Linked DNA regions of Homo sapiens. The protein of the gene in region 2 purifies or fractionates together with the protein of the main gene of each other region. This does not show direct contact. Each region holds a gene or a part of one and is shown on either strand. Other genes may lie near its edges.

Region 1 (3,054 bases), on a different chromosome or scaffold from region 2:
GTGCAGCAGGTGCTCCATGAATAACCCCTGAACGACGGAATGAACAAGTCAATAAATGAATAAAGGCTGGCAACCAGCCAGGCAGCCATGCCATTCTCCATCCAGGCTCTGGAGCAACAGAAAGTGACCACTCTTTACTAACAGGTTGGCCGGCCAGGCTGGAGCTAGCAAGGTGGCCTTGGCGGTGTTACTGCCAAGCCCCCGCATCAAGGCACCACACTCAGAGGCAGGCGGGGGCTGCCTGGAGAAGGCCACGGATTGGCCGGACCCTACCCTACGACCCAGGACACCTGGAGGAAGGGAAGCAGAGGCCAGTGGCCGCTGGAGACAGCAGTCAGAGGGCGCCAAGCAGAGGCCGCCTGCTGGTGAGCGGTACCCCACCCAGACTGCTCCACTCACAGCGCGGGGGTCCCCTGTGGCTGGCACAAAGGCCCCTCTACTTGACTGCCAGGGCCTGGGGCTCCCCCTGGGTTCATCTTTGCTCACACGCTCCTCACACAGTGCAAGTAATGGGCTGAGTGTGCAAAATGAGCAATGGAAGTAGTTTAAGGACCTCAAGTGAAGCCCCAAGAATCCCTGCCTGGGCTGTGCCATCCACCTCCAGGCTGGCTGCAGCCGAGGAGCCAGGCAGAGGGTCGGAACTGCATCTCTGTGATACCTGGTTTGTGAAGAAAGATGCTGAGGGTCAAAGCTGACCCCAGCAGAGAGGACTGTCTCAGGAGGGAAGGAGGGGTGGGAGGGAACCCATCAGGGAGCCCGTCACTGGACAGGCTCACACACAGCTGCTCTCACTCGAATCCCAGCATCGCAGCGCAAACAGGCCCGAGGAGGCGTCCACCCAGTCTCCAAGCACGAGGGTCCTCTCTAGCCAGACAAGCCCTGAAATCAGAGCCGTGGGGCCCCACAAGAGTCAGCTCAGAGGGAGGTAAAAGAAATCACAGGGGCTGGGCACGACGGCTCACGCCTGTAATCCCAACACTTTGAGAGGCTGAGGCGGGCAGATCACGAGGTCAGGAGTTCAAGACCAGCCTGGCCAACATGGTGAAACCCACTCTCTACTGAAAATACAAAAATCAGCTGGGCGTGGTGGCGGGCGCCTGTAATCTCAGCTACTCGGGAGGCTGAGGCAGGAGAATCGCTTGAAACTGGAAGGCAGAGGTTGCACTGAGCCGAGATCACACCGCTGCACTCTAGCCTGGGCGACAGAGCGAGACCCCATCTCAGAAAGAACGCAAGAAAGAAAGCAAGAAAGCAAAAAAGCAAGCAAGCAAGAAAGCAGGAAAGCAAGCAAGAAAGCAAGCAAGCGAGCAAGTAAGCAAGAAACGAAGGAAGAAAGCAAGAAAGAAATCACACCTAGGGCCCCATCCTGGCCCCTGGCCCTGGAGCTCACCCTTCAGGGCCACGCGGTTCCGGCGGATGGCCATGATGGCATTGCGAATGTCCTCTTCATCAGCATTGGAACTCACGTGCACCTCTTCAAAGTCCACTGGTACACATGCGTGCCTGAGGCACGGCAGGGTCAGGGAGGCTGGCCCAGACCCCCCCGCACCTCCTCCAGGAAGCCTGCCCAGGCTACCTCTCTCCTGTTGCTACCTGCCCTGACCTGGCTCTGACTGAGAAGGGACTGGGCCCACCTTCACTGACTGATGGGGACACGCTTGAACTCCACAATGCACACTGTGGCAGGACTGGTGCCACCTTCCCCGAGCCCAGGCCAGTCTGGCGGGATCACAGGCCATGGGACGCAAGGCCTGGGCTTACAGGTCGTCTTGCCATGGCCTCACCGAGTGCTTCTGGGCGCAATGCCCCTCTTGGCACAAAGTCCTCAGGGCCCCCTGGCTGAGGACAAGGCGGGGACCCAGGAGCTCCATACCTGAAGACGGACTTGACATGCAGCATGAGCTCTGGCCCGATGCCATCCCCTGGGATCATGGTCACCGTGTGCCGCCCGCCATACTTAGCGGACGGAGGCTGTGGGAGGCAGAGGGTGAAGGTGGGCCTTCGGGGATCCCACATGCCCCCAGCTCGGCCCCCATGGGCTCAAGCCAATTCCCTTCTTCCCACTGGCGCTGACCCCACAGGCTGCCCCGTCACAAGGTGCCAACTTGGGGCAGCCCCGTCCCAGACAGGGCTGCTCATCCAGGGCTCCTGGGTCAGCAGCAGCCCACCCCCACCTGGAATTTAGTTAACCCCAAAGCAACTAAGAGCCCCCCAAACCTAACAGGCAGAGAAGAATACTCACAATTGTTTGTTCCTAGAAAGGATGAGAAAGGAAGAAGACACAATCAGCCAAGGTTCCAAGAGCAAGGCCGTGACCAGGAAAGTGGGACCTTTTCCCAGGGGGATGCTGGCTAGTACAACTCCCAGAAGAGGGGTGGGTAGCCCCTGGAGACCACGTCTCAGAGGACAGGACACAGGCCGTGCACACACGCGCACAATTGCGGCCACATGGAGAAAGACACATGCGTGGGCACGGGCAGGTACTTACTGAAAAGATGTTCCTCGAGGGGACCTCGTGGGCGCCTAGAACCTGGCAGAGACCAAATGCCAGCGGTTGGTTTGATGTCTAACCCAGAAAGCCAAGTTGGAAGGAAAAACGGACCGTCCCCACTGTGCCCAGGCAGGTCCCCTGTCTGTGCAGCATGGCCCACTGCCAGGGGCACAATAGATAATTAGCTCCAAAGCCTCAGTCCCCAGGGCCGGCCCGCTGGAGCACCTGGAAAGTAGAAGGCGCTCCAGCCTCCTGCCTCCTTCCGCTCTTCAGAAAATTTCTTAAAAGGCGTGTCCCTGCCCTCCCTCCTCTTTTTTGCTTCTGATTATTTTTTTGGCCAGTTATTCCCGCTCAGCGATGTTTGTAACATGCAAAAACTGGCAAACTAACCCTGGTACAGCAGGGAAATCATTACAACAAACCACAGATCCATGACAACAGTCACGTTATCACTTCGCCGATCACTTTTTCTTATTACAAAAGCAGCATGTGGTCGCTACAGAAAAAGCAGAATAGGGAGATAAGAAGGTAGCACCCAGCCTCCGGCCTCCCTGAGACAAGCA
Region 2 (4,079 bases):
CAGCTACTCGAGAAGCTGAATTGCTTGAACCTGGGAGGCGGAGTTTGCAGTGAGCAGAGATGGCACTCCAGCCTGGGTCACAAGAGTGAAACTACATCTCAAAAAAAAAAAAAAAAAAAATTAGCCGGGTGTGGTGGTGCATGCCTGTAGTCCCAGCTGCTTGGGAGGTTGAGGCAGGAGGATCACTTGAGCTGGGAGGTTGAGACTACAGTGAGCTGTGATTGCATGACTGTACTTCAGCCTTGGTGATGGAGCAAGACCTTGTCTCCAAAAATTATATATATATCCTAAGACATCTCCCATGATGATACATTAATTTCATTCAACAAGTATTTGTTCAATCTGCTGTTCCAAGTTTAATATTGAGTACTGGGAAGGCAATAATGAGGAAATACAGTCAGGCGGGGAGTCAGATTCTTCATCCTACAATTATGTAAACAAGTGTCAAGCCCCTGCCATGACAAGCGCCATGTGGGAGAGTAACAGGGTGCTCCACAGCCCTGAGTGGGAGCGTTGCTGAGTCAGGAGGCCCAGCCATCCACGTTTCATCTTCCTTCCAGGCCTTGCGTTTGCTGCTCCGTTTGGAGCACTGCCCAAGCGTTGTCTTAGCTCCTGCTGCGGGGGAAACTGCATGGATAACCTGGGGTGGGGGCAGTGTCTACAGAGGAAAGGACTTGAAAATGCACTTCTCCCGAACTAGGTGATGTTTTCTGTGTGTGTGGCCCTTCTTCACAGTGGCCTCCTAGAAAAACAAGACCCTGACTCAAAGAATACCTCTCATTACAGTAAGACTGTTTGGAATGCTTTACTTTTTTAAAAATTTAATTTAATTGTTTAATGTGGTAAAAAAAATATATAACATAAAACTAACCAGCTTAACCATCTTAAGGGCACAGTTCAGTGGCATTAAGTACATTCTCTTTGTTGTGCAACCATCACCACCACCCATCTCCAGAACTCTTTTAAAATCTTCCCAAACTCTGTACCCATCAAACAACTCCCATTTCCTTCTCTCTTCACCTCTGGCAACCATCATCCTACTTTTTCTTTATATGAGTTTGACGGCTCTAGGAACCTCTTATAACTGAAGTTATCCAGGTCTGTCTGTTTGTGACTAGCTAGTTTCACTTAGCATAATGTTCTCGAGGTCCATTCATGTAACACATGTCAGAATTTCTTTTCTTTCTAAGGCTGAAGAATATTCCATTGTATGGACCTACCACATTGCATGTATCTGTTTATCCACTGAGGGACCCTTGGGTTGCTATGGAAAATAATGCAACTACGAACATGGACATCTGTTCTAGTCCTTGCTTTCAATTATTTTGTGTAGATGCACAGCAGTGGAATTGCTGGATCAGATGGTAATGCTATGTTTGCTTCACTATTTGTCATGTGCCTTTATGCATATTGTGATAAAATTTGATTTTTACAATAGTCCTGTGAGATAAGTAAGCATTGGTCTGTGGTTAAGAGAAGTGATTTCTTCAAAGTGAAATGATGAACGGAAGAGTATCCTGACCTTAAACTTGGCTTTTTTTTATTGCCCGTTCAGCTTGAAGAGTGGTTCCAATCACAAGTGTTACCTTCCAAGGACAATGTCATCCTGGTAATAACCAGCTTGCTCCCCTGCCCTGAGTCTTCTGCCAAGTCTGTCCAGGTGTGGGTCTGGGGCAGGGGACAGCTCATCCATTTCCCACTGCACAGAACGGAGGCTGTGTCCAGGGCCCCAGCAACAAAGGTTTCTCCTCTGGGTTTCTGTTTCCCTCTTTCAGTTCAGTCTGTCATCTGAACCATGAGGATCTGGTGGCTTCTGCTTGCCATTGAAATCTGCACAGGGAACATAAACTCACAGGACACCTGCAGGCAAGGGCACCCTGGAATCCCTGGGAACCCCGGTCACAATGGTCTGCCTGGAAGAGATGGACGAGACGGAGCGAAGGGTGACAAAGGCGATGCAGGTACTCACCTGACGGCTTCGGCTGCCTTTGAGCTTCTCTCTTCATTACTTTCATCTCATTCACTCATCATCTGTGTGGTTTTCCACCTACCCACTCACAACCCATCCATCCATCCACCCAGCAACATTCACTGGAGCCTGACCCCATTCATCCATCCACCCATCTGCCCAGCAACACTCACGGGGTCTGCTCCATGCCAGACTCTGTGCCAGGTGCTGGTGGAGAGCACAGGGCCAGATCGCCATGACCCCTGCCCTCCTGGGTTCTCTCATCTCTGACACCGCAGGACATTTTCAGTAGTATACAATGTCATGGATCCTCCCACCTCAGGTGACAGGTATGTTGGATTTTTGGCAACACGAGGCCAATAGAGAGATCTGATCATGAATTATTTGGCAGCAAGCACCCAGCTGCAGTGCAGGTGAGAGCTAATACCATATCATGTCATGAAGCAGGAGATGCGGAGTGACAGATGACACATACAGCTGCTGCTTATGAATCTATGACCTAGGCAGGGTCTGGGGATCTGGGGACAGAATCCATCCTCTGGGAGGGAGATTTGCCAAAGCCTGGAAGTCTGAGTGCTTTCCATAACAACAACCAATAGACTTGGTTTCTGAATGGGGTACCATTCTTGAGGCCTGGTCTTGACCATAGGGTCACATATCTAAGACTTATGCAGAATGATTCACTGGGTTAAGAGCACAGTTCAGTGGCATTAGAAAGAAAATATCAAAACTTCTATGGACCTTTTTACAAATAAGTTTGTGTTTCTAACATGTCTCACTTTATGGCATTTGGTGGCCTGATAGTTTTTTGAATGGGCTGGATGAAGCCAAGGGTCACCAGGAAGCAACTTTATTTCTTTCTAACCGGCACATCTGCTCTGTGAGGTGTCTTCTCCTGGCTCCTCACATCTCCAGCTCATTGAGACTGTTCCAGTCCCCCGGTAGCAAATAGCCCAGTCCAAATGAATACTAAAACCTTACCCTTAATGAAATCAGGTCTTCTGCCCTCACACTGTGACCACAGTGGTGTGTGTGTGTGTGTGTGTGTGTGTGTGTATGTCTGTGTCTGTGTGTATTTTATTTCTGAATGTTTAGGATTTTCATTTTTTAAATTTTTGTTATAAAATATTACACATAAAAGGAGATAAATAGGTGATACAAAATACAGAGAACTAAGACAAACACTTCTATATTCAATACCAAATTTCTCTACCTCTTCCGTGTTGAATTTCTCTCCTCTGCTCACCAATGTCCATTCTTTCAAGTTTTACATACTTCTTAGAAGCAAATGTTATATCTATTTTTTCTATGTAATTCATAAGTATTATTTGTAATATATATTCTTTCTTAGAAGGACATTCAATCACATTGCTCACACTAAAAATTTACTTCATTTTTATCTTACCATCTTAAAGTGTATTTTTGTGTATGTTTTATACCAAACATATTTTTCATATACTACCTGTGCATAATGTAGAAACATATAAATGTCTACTGATTGGGGTCTGTGTTCATGCTTTGTGAGTTGTGGTGCGTGATCATGAAAGCTCAGAGGCCACTGCTCTAGAGAATGGGAGAAACGAGAGCCAAGCAGGGGAACAAAAAGAGGGAAGGAGAGGAAGACACAGGGGAGCAGCCAGTAGAGGGGAGGGAAGGGGAGCGCAGGGAGGGGCAAATGTAGGGATAAGCCCCCTCCATTCAGAGGTCCCACGCTGACCAAGGCCCCACTCAGGAGCGCTGGTGTCCCAGGAGAACAGACATCGTGACAGAAATAAGTCTGCCTGTGTCAGTCCTGTCTCAGGACCTGCAAGCCGGCCCAGCCTGCGCCTGTCGCCCCACAGCCACGTCAGTGGGTCTGAAGTATGGGAGTCTCTGCTGCTTTGTGAGAAGCCAGAGTCTGGGGTGAGCTGTGGCCCAATGAGCACTCTACTGCCATAGCCAGAGCCACCTTCAACCCGCTGACGGATAGCACGCCGACCTGGAGCTCAGGGGGGCCTGTTCTGAGCACAAGGACTTGAGTGTAGTCAGCAGAGCCCCACTCACCTGATGTTCTCTGCCAGCTCGATTAGTAGCATTTCCCCCAGTGTAAGGCACTAGAGGGATCCCTCCA
Region 3 (3,200 bases), on a different chromosome or scaffold from region 2:
CCAAGGCTCCTTTCTGCTTCTGGAACTCTGCCATCTCTGGCTGAAGGGTTACCTTTCTCATGGTGTTTATATTTCACGCCCCCTTCTGAATAGCTGAAGAGGAATTGTAGACACCCCTGGAGATCTTCAGGAAGTCAAACATTAGTGGGTATCTGTCCAGTGTCTTCAGATCCCACCACTGCCCACATGGCCTCAGTTGCCAGCCCCAGGGCTAGGACACGGCAGGCACAGGGCGCAAGACAGAGGATCCCTGTCCTGACCCAAATCTAACCCCTCCTTTCCCCAGGGAACATCAACAATTGCCGGATGGACCTCTACTTCTTCCTGCTGGCTGGCATTCAGGCCGTCACGGCTCTCCTATTTGTCTGGATCGCTGGACGCTATGAGAGGGCGTCCCAGGGCCCAGCCTCCCACAGCCGTTTCAGCAGGGACAGGGGCTGAACAGGCCCTATTCCAGCCCCCTTGCTTCACTCTACCGGACAGACGGCAGCAGTCCCAGCTCTGGTTTCCTTCTCGGTTTATTCTGTTAGAATGAAATGGTTCCCATAAATAAGGGGCATGAGCCCTTCCTCACGACCATGGTCCATGACAAGGGGCAGGGCAGAGGGGGCCTGGATGGGAGTCCTTGTGGGGGACCAGGCAGGGGACTTGGATCAACAAGCACCAGACGAGTGGCGGGGGCAGGCGAGAGGCTCAGTGGGACCTCCACCCTCGTTGCCCCAGCTGGTGGCTGACCAGGTGGCTGTGGAGGGTCAGGAGCTGCCCCGGATCCTCTCCATGTAGTTGCGAAGCTCCTCAGGGTCCTTCAGCCCCATGTCCTCACACACCCAGCGGATGTCCTCCTCGCCTGCCACAAGGATGGACTGCACAGCAGGGGCCCCTACAGGCTCCTCAGGTGACTGGGCTGGAGGGGCTGGCGCAAATGTCACAAACTCTACTCGCTTCCGCCGCCCCCCAGCCTCCTTTCGGGCCAGGGTGCTTGAGGAGCTGGTGGTGCCCCCAGGAGGGCCAGGGGCCAGGGTAGGGGCCTCCCCTCCTCCCCCACTCTCACAGGGGCAGCTCCCCTCCCCCTTGGGCGGGCCAGGGGACTGCCGGTCCAGCTGGCGGCTCAGTTCCTCCTGGTCAGTGCCCAGCCAGACCCAGTTGTGGGGCTGGGGGGAGGTGGGGTCAGTGGCACTGTCGGGAGGTTCTTTGCGCTGATAGCGCAGGACGAAGACCACACCATTGACCAAGAAGATGAAGATGGCCACGCAGAAGACTCCCAGCAGGGCGTACATGCCCAGCTCTAGCTCAGTGACATGCTGAGGGGCAGGGACCATCTCCTCCTCCTCTTCCTCCTCCTCCTCCCTGGCTTCGGTCTCCTCCTTCCTGGCCTCCTCCTCTGCCCGCTCAAACTTGCCCCTCACACCTGTGTTGCCCCCGACACTGCCTGCCACCTGCCGTTTACCACCCATGGTGGCTTCTGTGGCTGGTGGGCTCCAAGCAGGGCTGGATGGGAGAGCAGGGGCTGGAGTGGAGGCAGGGGGCAGCCCCAGCCAGGCGGTGCCAGAGGCCAGAGGCACACGGTGGCGGCCCCGGCGGCAGGGCTCGGGCGGGTGCAGAGCCACATGCAGCGGCAGCCCCTCGGCGCCTGCCCCACTCACCACCACCCCGAGCTGGGCACCCTGCTCCTCAGCTGGCAGGATGGCACCAGGCTCCTCGGCTGAGACGGACAGTCCCAGGTCACGGCGGTCGTAGAGCTCAGCTGGGGCCACAGTGTGATCAGAGAAGGACAGCCATAGGGAGAGGGCCACCTCCTGTGGGGCACACAGACACAGGCAGAGACATGCGAGGGCACGCACGCATGCACAGAGAAACCACTCCCACAGAGATAGGCCACATGGAGGAGAGACCAGAGAGAAAACAGAGACACAGGCAGATAGACAAAACACAGGGAGAGAGGGGACGCGTGTCAATCACCTGTCTGCCACTCAGCCCTAGGGTCTGAGTTATTGGGAGGGTCCTCAGTTAGAGCCATCTAACCAACCTCCCACTGCCATACTCCAGCCACTGCTTGATCACCTCCAGCTGCAGAGAGCTCACTACCTCACAGAGTCAGTCCTCACTCTGAAAACCCTAAGGGGTCGAGGTACCAGGGTCCCTTCCTCCCATTCCCCTCTACCATGAGCCCCCATCTGGAGATGTTGACCTCATCCCCCTGACCCCCCAACTGTCACCTGCTTTGGGGCGGGAAGGGCTGACTGTGCCCAGCACGTAGCTGTGACCTCCCCGGGGTGGGCAGTGCCCCGGCTCAAGGTCAGCGAGATGCCCATCACTGGCTGCACCCTCAGCTCCAGCACTGAGACCTTGTCGTCCGTCACAGCCAGCGCCTGCTCCCCCAGGATGGAGTCAGACAGTGGGGAACGCACCTGAGGGTGGAAAGGAGCTGGAGGTGGGGGGCCTTCCATACAGACAGCCCCCACCCAGAGGGAACCGGGTGCTCCCAGCACCCTCACGGGCTGCCCTCCGGAGGTGGGGGAGGTCTTCGCCACGGACAGCCCCCACCCAGAGGGAACCGGGTACTCCCAGCAGGCTCATGGGCTACTATCCCTCTACTCTTTGCACCCCGGTGCATACCTGGACCCCAATCCCACACCTAGGGGGCAGTTCCCTTTTCCCTCAAGACCCGGTCCCCACACTACCCACACCTCAGCCCTTCATAGCTAGAGGGCTTCCCCCCTTATGCGGCCACCCCATTCTGAGCCTATCCCCAATCCCACTGCACTCAGACCTAGACCGCACAACTCCCCCACACACTCTGGGCTCCTGGCACACTCTTCACTCCCACCCACGAACATTTTGGGGGCCCCTCCACCCTTCTCAGGGGGTCTACTCTCCTGGTCCCCAGCTGCTTACCTCAATGGAGGTGACACCGGGCTCCCGGCCCACCACGACACGGCCACCCTCCAGAGAGGCTACACGCGAGTCCAGCACGCGGGCGTGTGGCGCCACGAGGTGGGACACGTCTAGCAGCCAGTCGGGGCCAAGCAGGTGCGTGAGGCGGCGGCCGCCGTCCAGCGGGTGGGCCGCGAAGGGGGCGAGGAAGCGCACACCGGCCCGCTGGTACTGCAGGTGGCAGCCACGGGCGCGCCGCTCGGCCTCATCCGACGCCTCTGCAGCGGGTTCCGCAGGCCTGCAGGGCGGGGAGGCCGGGACTGGCC
Region 4 (3,840 bases), on a different chromosome or scaffold from region 2:
CAGCCCTCGCAGCTCCCCACAGTAAAGCTTCACCACGCTGCCTCACCATGCAATGGCCCTCCCTGCTCCCAGATGCTCTTTCAGGGCAGGCGGTGTCAGTAGGTGGGATTGTCCTGATCACTCACCAGAACACTGACACCTGCTCCTGTTCTCACTTCCTCTAAAGATCCAGCAGCGCAGGCAGGAGCTGGAGCAGTCGCTGGTTGTGCGCAACACCTAGGAGCCCAAAAATAAGCAGCACGACGGAACTTTCAGCCGTGTCCCGGGCCCCAGCATTTTGCCCCGGGCTCCAGCATCACTCCTCTGCCACCTTGGGGTGTGGGGCTGGATTAAAAGTCATTCATCTGACAGCAGCCGTGTGGTCATTGGAAACTGGGGAGGGGAGGGGGAGAGAAGGGGAAGGGAAGAAGGTGGGGAGGCAGTGGGTCCCTCGGGACGACTCCCCATTCCCTTCCCTTGGATTCTTCTCCTTACTCAATTTTCCCTAGACCTAAAAACAGTTTGGCAGAAGACATGTTTAATAACATTTTCATATTTAAAAAATACAGCAACAATTCTCTATCTGTCCACCATCTTGCCTTGCCCTTCCTGGGGCTGAGGCAGACAAAGGAAAGGTAATGAGGTTAGGGCCCCCAGGCGGGCTAAGTGCTATTGGCCTGCTCCTGCTCAAAGAGAGCCATAGCCAGCTGGGCACGGCCCCCTAGCCCCTCCAGGTTGCTGAGGCGGCAGCGGTGGTAGAGTTCTTCACTGAGCCGTGGGCTGCAGTCTCGCAGGGAGAACTTCTGCACCAGCCCTGGCTCTACGGCCCGAAAGAGGTGGAGCCCTGAGAACCGGAGGAAAACATCCATCACCTCCAGCCCCTCCAGGGCTTCCTCCTCTTCCTGGCCTGCCAGTTCACCTGCCAGCCGGGCTCGGGCCGCCAGGTAGTCAGCGTTGTAGAAGCAGCCCTCCGCAGAAGCCTGCCGGTCAAATCTCCCCCCTATAGGAGCCCCCCGGGAGGGGTCAGCACCAGGAGGGGAGGGGGGGTCAGGGCCAGCCCCCGGGGGCCCTGGGGGTGATCTCTGTGGTGACAGGGCAGGATTGAACTCCTGGAAATGGACTGGAAAGAAGGCCTGCCAGCCAGAGATGGCATTCATGCGACAGCGGTTGAGGACTTCGGGCCCAGGCCTTGTCCACACGGTGGTAAGGAAGAAGAGAGTGTCCACAGGGTGCTTCTTCGAGACCACGTCCATGAGTCGCACCTGGGAAGGGGCCTCTGCTCGCACAGCGAGCCAGGCCAGCCTCGTCCCAGGGTACCGTCGCTCTAACTCCGCTGCTGCAGCCTTCACCCCAAGAAATGGGTCTGGAGCTCCACGGCCACCTTCTCGTGGCCCGTAGACCAGCAACAGGGTGAGCAATGCATGTTCTCGTGGCTCCAGGACATTGGCTGCAAAGGCCTCGAGGAAAGCCGGGGCTGCAGCAGCTTCAGCCACCAGGAGTGGCAGCACCAGCTGCACTCGGGTGGCCTCAGTGACATAGGGCATAGGTAGGATTTCCACCCGGCTCAGTGGCCGCAGCAGGCTGACCCTGCGAGCCAGGGCCCGCCGGTGCCCACGCTGTGTCACACATTCCAACAGCAGGTCCAGGGTGTACTCCATGCCCCGTGCTGGGTCGAAGCGCCGATAGCCGTTGAGCAGTCGCTGCTTCTGGAAGCGCAGGCGGGGCTGATAGCGCCGATTGAGCTGCTCCAGGGCAGTCTCCAACGCATCACCCACGTCCGCCCTGCTAGCCCCCTGTAGTGGGCACTTGGGAGCCCCATCTGCACAGGAGAAGGTGTGCTGCTCTGTGAAGTAGTCCCAGCCCAGCACCTCAAAGCGAGAGTGTGGTGTGAAAGGAGCAGGGAGCCCAACGGGCCAGCTCAGCCCTGCCTCCCCTTCGGGGGTCAGCACGGTCAGGTTCCGGATCTGAGCCTGGGTTGGAGGGAATGCACCTCACATTAGTGCCAGCTCCAGGATCCTACCCAGCTCCAGCTGCCTGGGCTCTGAGATTCAAACAGCTGAGCTCTGTCCTAACTCCATCAACACTTAGTGAGGGGTCCCTTGCTAATCACTGAATCCCTTGTACGTTATTCTTCACCTCTAAAATGCAGATGGAATAGGAATCATACTCACCTTACACAAATGCCATGAGAAGGAGGTGGAAAATGTGCTTTTTGCACAGGTAAAAGTATCTTGAAATAGAAGCTCAACAGCCTTTCTCTCCTACACCCAAAGGACTCACATCCTCTTCATAATCACACCTTTGTTTTCATCTACACTCCACCTCTGCCAAGCCTGACGTTCAACTTGAGAATTCTCCCTTCTACCCTTGGGCTTTCTTGGGACAGTTCTAGAAGTAAAGAAACTTCAGAGTTTTTGCCTCCTCAGTGGACAGGCACTATTGAGGAGGAGCTAAAACTATTCTGTCTGAACACTGTGCGGAGCTTCCTGATCCTCAGAGTCTACTTGCAAACCCCTTTAGCTGCATTCAAGTTGTGCTGGGAGCTTACCTTATGATTGCTTTGGACCCCCAAAGACCTTTGTCCCTGTAGTTGCTTTAAATTTAAGTATGGTCGGCCTCTTCCTGCCCTGCCATTATACAGGGCCTAGCCCAGCCCCACTGCCAGCTGCTCGTTCATTGCACGCCTGGACATCTCAGGCTCTCTCTGACCCTCTGACTGCGGTCCTCTGCCCACCTGCTCCTCTTCAGCTCACCTGCAGTTGTTCTATTTCACTGTAAGCCCGCTCCAACTCCAGAGCGCTGAAGCGTTTGTGGAGCCGGTACATGAGGGTACCTTCGGAGACAGGGTGCACGGCGAAGGCACTCAGGAAAGCCGAGCTCCCTTCCTTCTCAGGGTCCCTATTTTTGGCCAGTTCAAATGAGCGATACTGCTGCCCCTAGAGGGACAATCAGACCAATCAATGACACACACAAGAGCTGCCAGTCCCAAACCGCCCTTAACCATACTCAGTGTTCACATCTGTTAGCACTGCTGCGTTAGAACAGAGGACAGAAGAGGCACCCTTTCCAGCACCTCGCTTAACCCCAGTTCTTTCACTGCCCACATTTTGGAAAGTAGAAAGCAAGTAGGCAACTAAGGACACTCTCGGCTACTCTCAGTGCATTGCTTACAGGCTAGCCCTGCTCTGCAAGGAGCCATCACAGAAATAACATATTAAAAATAATAATAATGATACTTTCTTCCCCCAAAGATTCCCATTGTTCTTCAAGGGAATGAATGACACAAGCCAGAAAATCCTCCCAATACTTTGGTTTGAGAGGATGAGCCACCTCTGGGTTCTTCCACTCTTCTCCAGCACAAGAAACAGGGCAGCTCTCTGGGCTGGAAAAGTGATCACCTCACTTCTCTGGAGACTAGCCATCTCTAAGACATGCCCACACTGCCATAACTGAAGTGTGGATGTCGGGGGAGGTGTGGAGGGCAGGGGGGCAGGGGAGAAGGACTGCTGAGTAGGAGCACCCTTTGGTCTTGCTTAGGGGTTCCTAACAAGATACTACTTTTGATAGCCCCAGGTTCTCAGATTGCCAAAGGTGAGCAACGGAGGGCCCACAGAGCGGCCAGTGGCCAGGAAGGGGGAACAATGGCCTCTAAGGTGCTGCTGGGAGGAAGGCCAATCACTCATCCCCCACTAGCTTATCAGGGACTGGGACTGACTTGAAAGAGCTGTCACCTGGTGCTGTGAGACACAGCCGACGCCCAGAGAGTCAATGAGGCAGCGTCCAAGCCACTCGTCAGGACGGGCACTGAGAATGTCTCCTCGGCAGCCATCCAGATGTGGCCGCAGACGAAGCAGGAGACTC
Region 5 (3,500 bases), on a different chromosome or scaffold from region 2:
CCGTGCTGTTCTCATGATAGTGAATGGGTCTCACGAGATCTGATAGTTTTAAAAACGGGAGTTTCTCTGCACAAGCTCTTTTCTGCCTGCTGCTATCCACCTAAGATGTGACTTGCTCCTCCTTGCCTTCTGCCATGATTGTGAGGCTTCTCTAGCCACGTGGAACTGTAAGTCCAATTAAACCTTTTTCTTTTGTAAATTGCCCAGTCTCGGATATGTCTTTATTAGCAGCAAGAAAACAGACTAATACAGCCCTTTAAGAAAAAGTCTATGGAACCCTGTTCTAGGTTAAAACTACTAAAGAGATATAACTGAATACAGTGTGTGCCCTTGGTTGATCACAGAGCAACAAAGTAACCAAATTAAAAGTCATCTTTGGGGCAACTGGATTTCATATTAAATATCATTCAAGTTAATTTTCTTGGCTGTGATAATGGTATGGTCATGCAAGCCATTGTCCTTATAAAGTGTCTATTTCAGTTTTATGACAATATTTGCAATGTGTCACCCCAACCCCTGCCAAAAAAAAAATGTGTGTTTGCCATGTGAAGGGCAGGGAGAGGGCAAGGGAGAGAAAGCAAATACAGCAAATGTCTACAGTGAAACCAGGTGAAAAGTATATGAGCATTCACTGTATTATTTCAGCTTTTCTATAATTCCCAAGACATTTCTAAAATAAAAATTTGCGAGGAAAAGTAACCAGTGTTAGTAAGGGTATATACACTAACGATGGATGTGTAAGTTGCTCTTACAATTTGCTTAAAGGACAATTGGGAGATTTTCTCAAGGGTTTTGAAATACTGCCTGTAGTTTGATAATATTCAAATCCTAAGAGTTCATTCAAAGGAAATAATAAGGCCGGGTGTGGTGACTCACACCTGTAATCCCAGCACTTTGGGAGGCTGAGGCAGGCAGATCACAAGGCCAAGAGACTGAGACCATCCTGGCCAACATGGTAAAACCCCATCTCTACTAAAAATACAAAAATTAGGTGGGCGTGGTGGCATGCGCCTGTAGTCCCAGCTACTCGGGAGGCTGAGGCAGGAGAATCACTTGAACCCAGGAGGCGGAGGTTGCAGTGAACCAAGATTGTACCACTGCACTCCAGCCTGGCAACAGAGAAAGACTCTGTCTCAAAAAAAAAAAAAAAAAAAGGAAATAATAATATATTAATGGACATGCAAAGTCTTTTCTACATAAGGATGTTCATTGCGACATTTATTTATAGAAACCAAAAACTGGAAACAAGTATCCAGCAGTAAGGTACTCAGGAATATAAACTACCCTGTACATCACAAAACTCCAAGGTAACCTAAATATGTCAGGGAGAATATTTAATGGCATGAAAAAATGCTCCTGATGGAGTCTTAAGTAAAAGGTAAGTATATGTACAGTATAAACATATACAGGAGTGGAGAAACACTGGGAAGGTAGACAGAAAAACATTAATATTCCGAGCCATGGGCAGTGGGATTATGGGTGACGTAATTTTTAAATGTTTATCTCTGTTTTATCTACAGTGAAGGTGTATTGCTTTTGTAACCAGGAAAACACGTACATTAACTTTTTTTTTCCAAGGCCAGTGTTACTACTGTGTGTATAATCCTGTAGAGTTTCTGTTGAATGCACTACTGAGCGAGAGGTGGCTCCAGTAGGCTCAATACTGAGCTCAGAATGCCCTTGTGATGGGCCCAGTGACTAGGGAGGGCAGTGGGGAGGCACTGACCTGGCTCTGTGGTGGGAGGACCACCTCATCATAGGGCCCCACGATGGAGCTGGCAAACTTGCTGAAGATGATGGGCTCCTTGGGCACGGGCACGTTCTGTTCTTTGCAGTGGTCCACATAATTCATGCCCACACACACCACCTTATCTGGCCATGTGACTGGAGCCAGGAAGGTTACCTCCGACCATGGTAGGACTGGCAACTGGGCAGCCAAGGCTCTGTAGAGACCAGAGCAGGTGAGAGGGTCTGGCTGGGAACAGGTGGGCAATCCCGGGCAGGCTGGGCAGATCCTGCAGCAGCTACAGGTTTTGCTTTTTGAAATCTATTTCCTAGCTCTATCAACCATCAGAGTCAGTGTGAAAACCACTGACTATTGTCCTTTGCTGTCAGAGCAGGGCTTTTATTTATCCAGTATTGATTTCCTCTCCCCCTTAGGTAACTCATGTCCATGTAAAAGATACAAACTGGAATACATGGAAAGGTCTCCCTTTCCCCTTCTGGTTACCCCGTTCCCCTGGCTCTTCGCAGCTACTCTATGGATATTCTTCTCCCACCCTTTTGTATGTAATGATAGCATACTATTTACATCTTTTAAAAAAACAACTGACTTTGGAGATCTCTGCTTAACAATATGTAACAATACATAGAGAGTGTCCTCTTTATTTCTTGTGGCTGCATATTACTGCTCTATAGAGATATACCCAAGTCCCTAATGAGGGGCATGGAGATTTCCAGTCTTTGCAGAATATGGCAATATGGGAACATACTGTTAATACTGTGAGCTGTGAAACATTTGTATTTTTTTCCATTTTAATAGATGAAAATGACATCTTAAAGTATTTTTAATTTATTGTTCATCAGCTCCTTAGACCAGATTCTATAGGGGTCCAGGCTTCAGGGACACTCTCACCTAATCTAGTCCAAACCCAGGAACCAAGTGTCTTATAGAAAACCTCCTTGCAGTCCTCTCTCCTTGTAGGAGCTGGGAGTCTATATCACTCCCCCAGCTGCATAAGATGCCTTTTAGGACCCCCGGGCCCAGACCCGTCAGTCAGTCCAGGACTTCATTCCCAGAGGAGGCAGTGTGATGAAGTATAGAGTCCTGGTTCCAGCACCACATGTATGGCCTTGAAATTGTTAATCACCTCCCCTAGCTCTCTGTTTTCTCCTCTGAAAACTGAAGATGTTATTATGTAAGATTTCTAAGGATCTTTTAAGAGAACGGGAGAAAAGGAAAGGTGGGGTTACTCTGCTCCCTTGCAAAAGAGCTACCTGCTGGTGCTGTTTCCCAGAGCGGGGAGGGTGCAGGGGGACCAGGGCAGCTGCTTCAGGGCGATGCTGCCCACTTACTTACCTTCTTGCCACTGAGAGGGTGGCCTCTCCCTGCTCTAGGAACTGCGTCATCGTCTTTGGGAGTGTGGGGTCAAAGGCATTGAGGTTGATAACCCCTCCACCATTCCCTGTCTCCAGGCCCAAGTGAGGCCCCACCAGGTGGGGTGCCCGGAACTGCACTAGTCTCATGTCTCTGGAGGGTTGAAAGGGCCACTTCTGAGCCTGCAGCAGAGCTGTGAGTAATCTTCTTCTACCAGACACCAGCATCAGAGCCTGCAGAGAAAAACACAGGATCCAGGAGATGGAGGATCTCAGAGCCATCATCAGCATCCCTGATATTCCTAGGGCTATAGCCCAAGGCCCTTTGCCCCATCAACCGTTCCCTGCATACCACACGGGAAGCGGTCCAGGCTTGTATTTTACCTGCTATACTTCATAAGGTG
Region 6 (4,099 bases), on a different chromosome or scaffold from region 2:
AGCCTTGGCCACCCTTTGGCCCATACGGTCTCTCCTGCCTCCAATCTCCAGACGGGAAGCATCCACACTCCAGCCTTTCACTTACTAGGGGTGTGACCAATGTAAATGATCAGACCCCTCTTAGCCTTCATTTCCTGAACTGCAAAAATGGTCCAACAATAACCATCTCCTTGGGTTGTTATCAAAATGAAATGGGAACTTGCACATGAAGGGTTGAGCGTGGGTCTGGGCAGGCAGGCATCCCACCAATGGCATTCTGCCCCCTACGCAGTTCACTGTTCCACGTTTCATTCTCCCACACGATTTTCTTTTTCCAGAGGATGCATCTTACACTCTTCTCTACCTTCCCTCCTCCCCAAGAACTTGGCTCAAGGCTGAGCAAACTGCATGCTCCAGAAATGCGGTAATATGGCAACTAACAAAGAGGACTCCTTCCAGTGACAGTCTCCGCGGGCCACTCCACCAAGGTGGAGAAAAGATGGATTCCACCATCACGCACCAAGAAGGCACTGCCGCCTCGCTGCCCCTGCCCCGTGCTCTGGGCACACAGGGCTCCCCCATGGTGGTCAGGAAACTGCCCACACGCAGCCCCTGCCCTGCCTGGCATAAGCCTCGCCCCCAGCAGCACTGGCCTGCCACACCCTACCTCCCACATGCATTTCCTGGGCTATTTGGTCTCTGGTGCTGGTGAATTCCTCCCAACAACAACGTAATTCACCAGGTACTAGGGGCTGCCAGCTCTTCGGGCAAGGAATTCGGCCCAGAGGCTCTGAACAGGCTTCCCAGGGTAGGGCCCAGTGGAATTTGGCAGGGCAGGGGCAAGCGCACTCTGTGCAGAGGGCACGGTTCCGAGGGAAGGAACCTGCAGCAGCTCCATCCTCCTCCTGCTCAGCTGCTGCTGGAAGACCTCACACTGCCTGCCACCCAGATCCAAGCCTCCTCAGGGTGTGGTCAATGCAGTGCCAACGGGAAGGGGACCCTCTGAGGCTATTCATCCCTGGACACAGCCCCAGGGAGGGCCAGGCACAGAGACCAGGAGGAGGAGGGACACTCCAGGCGTCCTTGTCCTCCCTGACCGGGCCTCTCACCAGGCACTTCCAGCCCCCTCTATGAAAAGCTCCAGGGGGAAAGGCCGAGTCAGCACTCTGGCCACAACTCTCTCCCAGGGCCTGGCTTTAAAGTGTGCTCTGGAGCTCTGGGAATGGCCATCCTCCCCACCCCTTCCCACCGCCTGCCTCCTGAGGCCCTGCGCAGAGGAGCAGAGGAAGGCAGGAGTGCGAGGAGGTAGGGGAACTGCCTGTGAGGCCGCCCTGCAGTGGGTTAGGGGGTTACCCGGCCTGGTTTGTGTCTGTCCCACATTCAATGCCAGGTGGGCCCAGAATTGCCCCGGGGGTCTCCGGTTGGTGTGAATGTGGGTCACCGTGGCCCCCACCTTTCCCATCTGGCAGATATGTGTCTTGTGCCTACGTCACGCCAGGCCAACCCAGCAAGCACGGGCCAGGCTGGAGGCCCCAGACTCTCCAGGGGGCTGTCTGGTCCTTGCACAAAACTGCAGACACTGCACGGACTGTCCCCATCCCCCAATTAAACAGCCAGCAGGACCAAGCTGGGCCGGGCGATTCCCCCGGTCACTCCAGACACCCCCACCCCCACTCCCCCAGGAAGTGGATCTTTCCTTTCAACTCTTAGATTCTTGGCGAGGGATCTGTCTGTCCCCACACTTCACTGTTACCCCTGAATAAGGAGCAGGAAGAGAATGGCACAGTTTTGGGGTTTTCTGATTTTTGTTTTGTTTCCTGTTCGTTGGGTTTTAAAATCTTTAGCAGCTCTTTTGCCGCTCAAGGTCTGTCCCCTCTGGAGGGCCACTAGTGTGCCCAGAGCTGCCCACGCTACGCAACATCACAGCACGGCGGCGCCCAGCCTGTTGCTGCGTCCCAGTGGCAGGAGCCTCCTCACAGGGCTGCCGAGCTCACGCGGGGCGGATGCCGCGCGCCACAAGCCTCCTTGAAGACTAAGTGTGGAAAAGAAAATATCAACGCCCACGAGATGCAGGGGGCGGGGGGAAGGTGGGGGAAACGAACCCTCGCGGATAGTTGGAAAGCCGTCCTAACGCATCAGTCCTGGGGCAGAGCGAGGAGACTGGGCCCGGGAACTCCCGGACAGAGAGCCCTGGCTCCCCGGGCGCGCCCTGCAGGTCCCCTGCCGAGGACGGGCCGGCGCCGGGTGGTCCGGGAGCGCGGTGCGCGGGGGTCCTCAAGAGCCCACCCGCTTCCTCCTAGGCTGCTGGAGTCCCCCGGGCTCCCCTCCCCCGCCGCCCGCCACATCTGGTTCCACTCAGGTCCTCCCCCACCTCTAGGCGCGCTCCTCCTCCCCTCTCCTCCCCCGCTTTCAGAAAAGCGGAGACGAGTTTTAAAAACCCAGTCACACACACACGCACACACGCTTCTGGAGAAAAGAGGGGGGAAAAGGAGGGAAAAGTCGAGAGCGGCCCGCGCCTCGGCGCTCCCCCCGCCCGGGCCCTGAAGTTGGCCAAGTTGGCAGCGCCTTACCCGGGAGGGCGGCGTCCCCAGGGGCGCCGGGACGGCCGAGGTGCAGGCACCCGAGGAGCAGGACGCAGCGCAGCAGGTGACGAGGCCAGGGCGCGGGGGCCGGCCGGCCGGGCCCCATCCCCGAGCGCGGCGCTCAGTGGACGCGGGGACCGAGGGCGCACAGGCGCAACGCGCTGTGGCAGCCCCGAGGCTGGGCTGTGATGACCGCCCGCAAGGGGCTCGCGTCCTCCTCCGGGTCGGGACGAAGTGATGCCTCCCGGGGAGGAGGAGGGAGGAGGCAGCCCGGGCGGAGGGAGGGCGGAGGGAGGAGCGCAGAACCGGGGAGGAGGGTTCGAGGGGTAGAGGGGAAGGGAAGTGGGCAGCGTGGGAGGGGAAGGGGAGGAGGCGCGGGTCTGGGGCTAGAGCGTCGGGAGGGAGAGAAAGGGGTGGCGGAGAGGAGGACACGCCGGGTCCAGGAGGACCCCAGCGTGCGCCCTTTCTCTTGCTGCTCTGTTTCCCAGTCTCTCCCCGCCTCGCCTTCCCTCTCTTCTGTCCCGGCCAGGATCCCCAGACGCTGCGTCACAACTCCCCCGCTGGCGCGGGCGGGGAAGCAACTGCAAAACTTTCCGCAAACTTCACGGCGTGGTGGGACCTGGGCTACGAGGTCCGGCCAGCCCGGGGCGGGGGCGTGCAGCTGACCCAGGTGGCCAGACCCGGGCCGCCAGCATCCGCCCCGCCATCCCGCCTCTTTCTGCGGGCGTCTCCAGCAGCCTAGCATCCCCTACCTCCATGCCGAGGAGGACCCCTCCCCCGGTCTGGTGGGGAAGGGGCGGAGCCCAGGGCCTGGCCACCAGGGCGAAGATTGGGGGAGGGGGAGGCAGAGCCCTTGTTACGTGTGCGGAGCGCAACAATTCTTGCACGTCTTGTTTTAGCATTTTCGTGACCCCTGTGTCAGTGTTCCCGGTGCAGGAGTGTAGCACTTTTGCTTGTTGGGGCTGCATCCAGAAACCTGGGGAAAATCTGTCCACTGGACGTCTCAGAAGACCGGCATCATCACTCCCACCAACTGGACTGCTGGCCGGTAGCAAAAGACCAGCTGGAAATTTCATAAAAGGTTAGACAATCCACAGTTACTCAGTGTTACGCAACAGGTCTCTGCAGCACAGAGCACGAACTGGGGAGTCAGGATGCTGGAGTCCAGCCCTGCCTCTCTGCGGATTCCCTGCCTGACCTTGGGAAAGCCTCTTGGGGTCTCGGGGCATAGGGCAGGACTGAGACGTTGAGACCCCAAGTGCAAAGAAGACACATTTCTCCTACCACGAGTAATCAAAAACACTATGAAACTGTAATATGGGCCGGGTGCGGTGGCTCACGCCTGTAATCACACTTTCGGAGGCCGAGGAGATTGAGCCCAGGAGTTGAAGACCAGCCTGGGCAACATAGGCAGATCCCATCTCATTTTGTTAATATAAAATTTTTAAATAATAATAAAACTGTAATATAAATTGTATTGTTTCCTATCTTGTCCACCTTGGTATGTTTTTTGGAAATAAATTCAATTTTTTTCCTTT
Region 7 (3,500 bases), on a different chromosome or scaffold from region 2:
TAATTATTATTATTATTATTTTGAGACAGGGTCTTGCTCTGTTGCCCAGACTGGACTGCAGTGGCGTGATCATGGCTCACTGCAGCCTCGACCTCCAGGGCTCAAGCGATCCTCCCACCTCAGCTTCCCAAGTAGCGGGGACTGCAGGCACATGCCACCACACCCAGCTATTTTTTTTTATTGTTTGTTGAGACAGGGTCTCACTATGTTGCCCAGGCTGGTCTTGAACTTCTGGGCTCAAGCGGTCCACTTGCCTCGGCCTCCCAGAGTGCTAGGATTACAGGCAGGAGGCACTGCACCTGGCCAGAAAAAACTATTCTTGACTTCACATTTTCCACCAGCTTCACCCCTGCCCCTTTGCTTCTCTTTGCAGCAAAACTTCAAAAAGCATAGTCCACGCTCTCCCCCAGGCATTCTTGGGTCTCTCTACCCAGGATTTTGCTCCCCCATCGCCACATCTCCTTTTGCCAAGGGCACCAGAGGCCTCCGTGTTGTTGGATCCAGCGGTCGGCTCTCAGCCTCCTCTTAACTGCTCAGTGGCACTGGTGCCGCCAAGCAACCCTTCCTCCAAGAGAGCCACAGGCTCTGGGATACTTCACTCTGGGGTTCCTCCTACCTCACAGACTCTCCTGGCTGGTCCTCCTCTTCTCCCCAACATCTTATGGCCAGGTCTCCAGGCTCTTTTCTGTCTACAGGCACTCTCCATGAGTCCTTATTCAGTCTCCTGGCCTCAAATGCCAGCTGTGCTGAGACCCCCTTATTTGTAGCTCCAGCCTAGCCTGCTCTCCCCTGAACCCCAGACTCATGTTTCCAGCTACCTCTGCCGATATCTAATAGACACCTCAAACTCAACCTGCCCCGGCTGCACTCCCGATCGGCCCCCACCTCCTACAGTCATCCTGCTTCAGAGACTATAGCTCCGTTTTCAAGGGCTCAGGCCACACCCTTGGAACCACCCTTGCATCCTCTCTTTCCCTCAAACCACCGCATCTCTCACCTGGATTATCGTAACAGCTTCCTGTGTCCCAGCTGCAGTCCCCCGCCCATTACATTTTGTTCCTAACACAGCAGCCAGAGTGAGCCTTTTGAAAGGGAAGATTATGGGGCTCTTTGGCTCACATAGTGCAGTGTCTCCCCATCTGACCACTAAGGCCTGGCTGTGACCATATCACCCCTGCGACCTCAACTCCCCTCACCTCCACTCCAGACACACCTGCTGTTCTATGGTGCTGCCTGCAGTTCAACACCAAAGAATATTCTTCGCTCCAGGAAGAAAAACGGTTTTCTCCACCTCCAATCACAATGTGTTCTTTTGGCCTATCTTTTGCTCCCCACCCACCCTTTTTTTTGAGACGGAGTCTTGCTCTGTCGCCCAGGCTGGAATGCAGTGGCACGATCTTGGCTCACTGCAACCTCCACCTCCACCTCCCGGGTTCAAGCGATTCCCCTGCCTCAGCCTCCTGAGTAGCTGGGACTATAAATGCGTGCCACCACGCCCAGCTCATTTTTTGTATTTTAGTAGAGATGGGGTTTCACCATGTTAGCCAGGATAGTTTCGATCTCTTGACCTCGTGATCCACCCGCCTTGGCCTCCCAAAGTGCTGGGATTACAGCTGTGAGCCACCGCGCCCGGCCTTATTTTCCCCTTTTAGGAAACACTGGGAACTATTTTCTTCTCAGAGAAAAACAGGACTTGCCCAATAGTAACATGGAAACTTAACAGGGTCTTAACCTGTGAAGACTCTAGGAGCAGAACCCGGAGTAAGGGGGAGCAGGGGCCGGAGTAAGGGGAGCAGGGCCCCGTCTAAGATGGGGCAGGGCCTGGGCTAAGGGAGAGCAGGGCCGGGCTAAGGGGAGGCAGGGCCCAGTCTGAGGTGGGGGCAGGGCCTGGTCTAAGGGGAGCAGAGCCTGGGCTAAAGGGCAGCTGAGCCCAGTCTGAAGGAGAGCCGAGCTATCTGAATAGGGGCTAGCACCTGTTCTAAAGGAAGTGGCTGCTCCCCTGCTTTCGCTGTAAGAGGGAACACAGGCCTTTTAAGAAAATGGGAATCAAGTTTTTTGTTTAATTTCCCAAAGGTTATATGTTGACAATTAACTTCAAAGTATTAGCTGCTTTTTGTAGGCCAAATAAACACGTCTGTGGGCCAGATCTGGCCCAGGACTAGAGTTGCCAGTGGCAACTTCTGGCCCAGGCTGAATGGTGGGCAGGAAGGAAATGGAGCCCCCAGGAGTGGGAGTGGGAGCTGATGCCTGGGTACGGGAGCTCTGTGGGTGGGAGTGAGACAAAAAACAGGGTCTTGAGCTCTGGGGAGCAAGCAGTGTCCTCCAGTGAAGGAAATCCTGGACTCGCAGGCAGAAGTTTTGCCTCTTACTCGCCATGTGCTCTGAATAAAGTTACCTGCCCTCCACGAGCCTGTTTCCTTATCTGAAAAATGGGGACACCTGACCCCTTCCCTGCCCAGTTTAGTGTTGTGGGACAGGGCTGCTGTCAAGACAATACCCAGTCCTGCCCTCCTCCCAGAGTGGGCCAGGGTAGCCCACGTAGCCTCTTCCCTGCTTTCCTGGGTGGCACTGCCAGCCTGACCCCCTGGTGTCCATTCAGTCTAGTCCTTCATATTTCTGGGGCACGGGGAAGCTCTGAGTAACGTGGGACTATAAAGTGCAAGAGGGTTGCTGATGGCCTGGTCCCGTGCCCTCTCCATTCCTGGGCATTCTTGACAAAGGCTCCCAGCAACTGAGGGTACGCAGCAGCTGCAGACACCAGCCTGACAAATATCTCATTGTGGGGAGGGGGCCATAGCAGGAGTGGGGAGCCAGGGAAATACAGAACCTGGGACTGGGAGGTGTTGATGTGAGAAGCCCAAGAAACTTCATTCCACCTGTCAAAGCCACCTCCTTCCAGATGCCCAAATCTGAGCCACTTGCTGGGCAGGGACTTTGCCTTTGCACTTGCTGAATACCATCTGCACCTCTCAGGAGGGAGAGTGCCAGGCTCAGGAGTCCCTGCCGAGCTAGGAAAGGGGGCTGGGGTGGGCTCTGCCATTTTTTGAAGGCTGGCAGGGGGACCCCTCAGGAGGTACTTGGGGCAGTACCATATGCTGTGGCTCCTGAGTGAGAGTCAGCTCTGCGCCCCACAAGACCACTCCCTACCCAGAATTCACTGTCATCATGTGCTGGGTCCAGATGCCCATGCAGCCTCCTGGCGGGAGCATCACATGTGCCGCCTGCCTGGGATGGCCCATGGAAGAGTCTGCCCCGCTCTGCCCTGCTATGGAACAACTCCTGTTCTGTCTTCAGCGAGTGGTGTTCATTTAAGTGATGACTGGGCTGGCCCCCATGGCACAGTTATCACAGAGAGTCTGCTGCTACCCATGGCTGAGAGCTCTAATTCTTCCTGGTGGTCTCTGAAGCCACCAGGACGGATGAACAGCAGCTTCACCCTCTTGGCTGACTCAGCTGCCTTTCATCAGCTCATCTGCCCCTAGGATCCACTCTGCCTCTGG

The links.
Region 1: the proteins of C1QTNF9B (region 2) and IDH3G purify together in Homo sapiens (co-immunoprecipitation; one large-scale study listed by IntAct). This does not show direct contact.
Region 3: the proteins of C1QTNF9B (region 2) and TMEM132A purify together in Homo sapiens (co-immunoprecipitation; 2 studies listed by BioGRID and IntAct, with this or other methods). This does not show direct contact.
Region 4: the proteins of C1QTNF9B (region 2) and CHPF2 purify together in Homo sapiens (co-immunoprecipitation; one large-scale study listed by IntAct). This does not show direct contact.
Region 5: the proteins of C1QTNF9B (region 2) and FAHD2B purify together in Homo sapiens (co-immunoprecipitation; one large-scale study listed by IntAct). This does not show direct contact.
Region 6: the proteins of C1QTNF9B (region 2) and MRC2 purify together in Homo sapiens (affinity purification with mass spectrometry; one large-scale study listed by BioGRID and IntAct). This does not show direct contact.
Region 7: the proteins of C1QTNF9B (region 2) and CSPG4 purify together in Homo sapiens (affinity purification with mass spectrometry; one large-scale study listed by BioGRID and IntAct). This does not show direct contact.

The regions. Positions count from the first base shown.
Region 1 is NC_000023.11:153,788,322-153,791,375, forward strand, and holds part of IDH3G (isocitrate dehydrogenase [NAD] subunit gamma, mitochondrial isoform a precursor), read right to left. Parts: intron 2,531-3,054; coding exon 2,489-2,530; intron 2,255-2,488; coding exon 2,243-2,254; intron 1,972-2,242; coding exon 1,874-1,971; intron 1,504-1,873; coding exon 1,391-1,503; intron 1-1,390. UniProt on the Homo sapiens protein: Regulatory subunit which plays a role in the allosteric regulation of the enzyme catalyzing the decarboxylation of isocitrate (ICT) into alpha-ketoglutarate.
Region 2 is NC_000013.11:23,894,703-23,898,781, reverse strand, and holds the start of C1QTNF9B (complement C1q and tumor necrosis factor-related protein 9B precursor), read left to right. Parts: upstream 1-1,279; 5' UTR 1,280-1,364; intron 1,365-1,555; 5' UTR 1,556-1,660; intron 1,661-1,775; 5' UTR 1,776-1,795; coding exon 1,796-1,961; intron 1,962-4,079. UniProt on the Homo sapiens protein: Probable adipokine. Activates AMPK, AKT, and p44/42 MAPK signaling pathways.
Region 3 is NC_000011.10:60,934,460-60,937,659, reverse strand, and holds the end of TMEM132A (transmembrane protein 132A isoform b precursor), read right to left. Parts: intron 3,173-3,200; coding exon 2,896-3,172; intron 2,409-2,895; coding exon 2,217-2,408; intron 1,797-2,216; coding exon 753-1,796; 3' UTR 501-752; downstream 1-500. Other genes in the region: SLC15A3 (solute carrier family 15 member 3), read left to right, coding at 287-441. UniProt on the Homo sapiens protein: May play a role in embryonic and postnatal development of the brain. Increased resistance to cell death induced by serum starvation in cultured cells. Regulates cAMP-induced GFAP gene expression via STAT3 phosphorylation.
Region 4 is NC_000007.14:151,235,483-151,239,322, reverse strand, and holds the end of CHPF2 (chondroitin sulfate glucuronyltransferase), read right to left. Parts: coding exon 3,711-3,840; intron 2,916-3,710; coding exon 2,733-2,915; intron 2,368-2,732; exon of another isoform or gene 2,151-2,367; intron 1,950-2,150; coding exon 642-1,949; 3' UTR 501-641; downstream 1-500. Other genes in the region: SMARCD3 (SWI/SNF-related matrix-associated actin-dependent regulator of chromatin subfamily D member 3), read left to right, coding at 167-220. UniProt on the Homo sapiens protein: Transfers glucuronic acid (GlcUA) from UDP-GlcUA to N-acetylgalactosamine residues on the non-reducing end of the elongating chondroitin polymer. Has no N-acetylgalactosaminyltransferase activity.
Region 5 is NC_000002.12:97,088,383-97,091,882, forward strand, and holds part of FAHD2B (oxaloacetate tautomerase FAHD2B, mitochondrial), read right to left. Parts: 5' UTR 3,481-3,500; intron 3,331-3,480; 5' UTR 3,325-3,330; coding exon 3,080-3,324; intron 1,944-3,079; coding exon 1,727-1,943; coding exon of another isoform or gene 1,670-1,726; exon of another isoform or gene 1,194-1,669; intron 1-1,193. UniProt on the Homo sapiens protein: Tautomerase that converts enol-oxaloacetate, a strong inhibitor of succinate dehydrogenase, to the physiological keto form of oxaloacetate. It is thereby required to maximize aerobic respiration efficiency by preventing succinate dehydrogenase inhibition.
Region 6 is NC_000017.11:62,626,371-62,630,469, reverse strand, and holds the start of MRC2 (C-type mannose receptor 2 precursor), read right to left. Parts: upstream 2,801-4,099; 5' UTR 2,668-2,800; coding exon 2,550-2,667; exon of another isoform or gene 2,420-2,549; intron 1-2,419. UniProt on the Homo sapiens protein: May play a role as endocytotic lectin receptor displaying calcium-dependent lectin activity. Internalizes glycosylated ligands from the extracellular space for release in an endosomal compartment via clathrin-mediated endocytosis.
Region 7 is NC_000015.10:75,678,349-75,681,848, forward strand, and holds part of CSPG4 (chondroitin sulfate proteoglycan 4 precursor), read right to left. Parts: intron 1-3,500. UniProt on the Homo sapiens protein: Proteoglycan playing a role in cell proliferation and migration which stimulates endothelial cells motility during microvascular morphogenesis. May also inhibit neurite outgrowth and growth cone collapse during axon regeneration.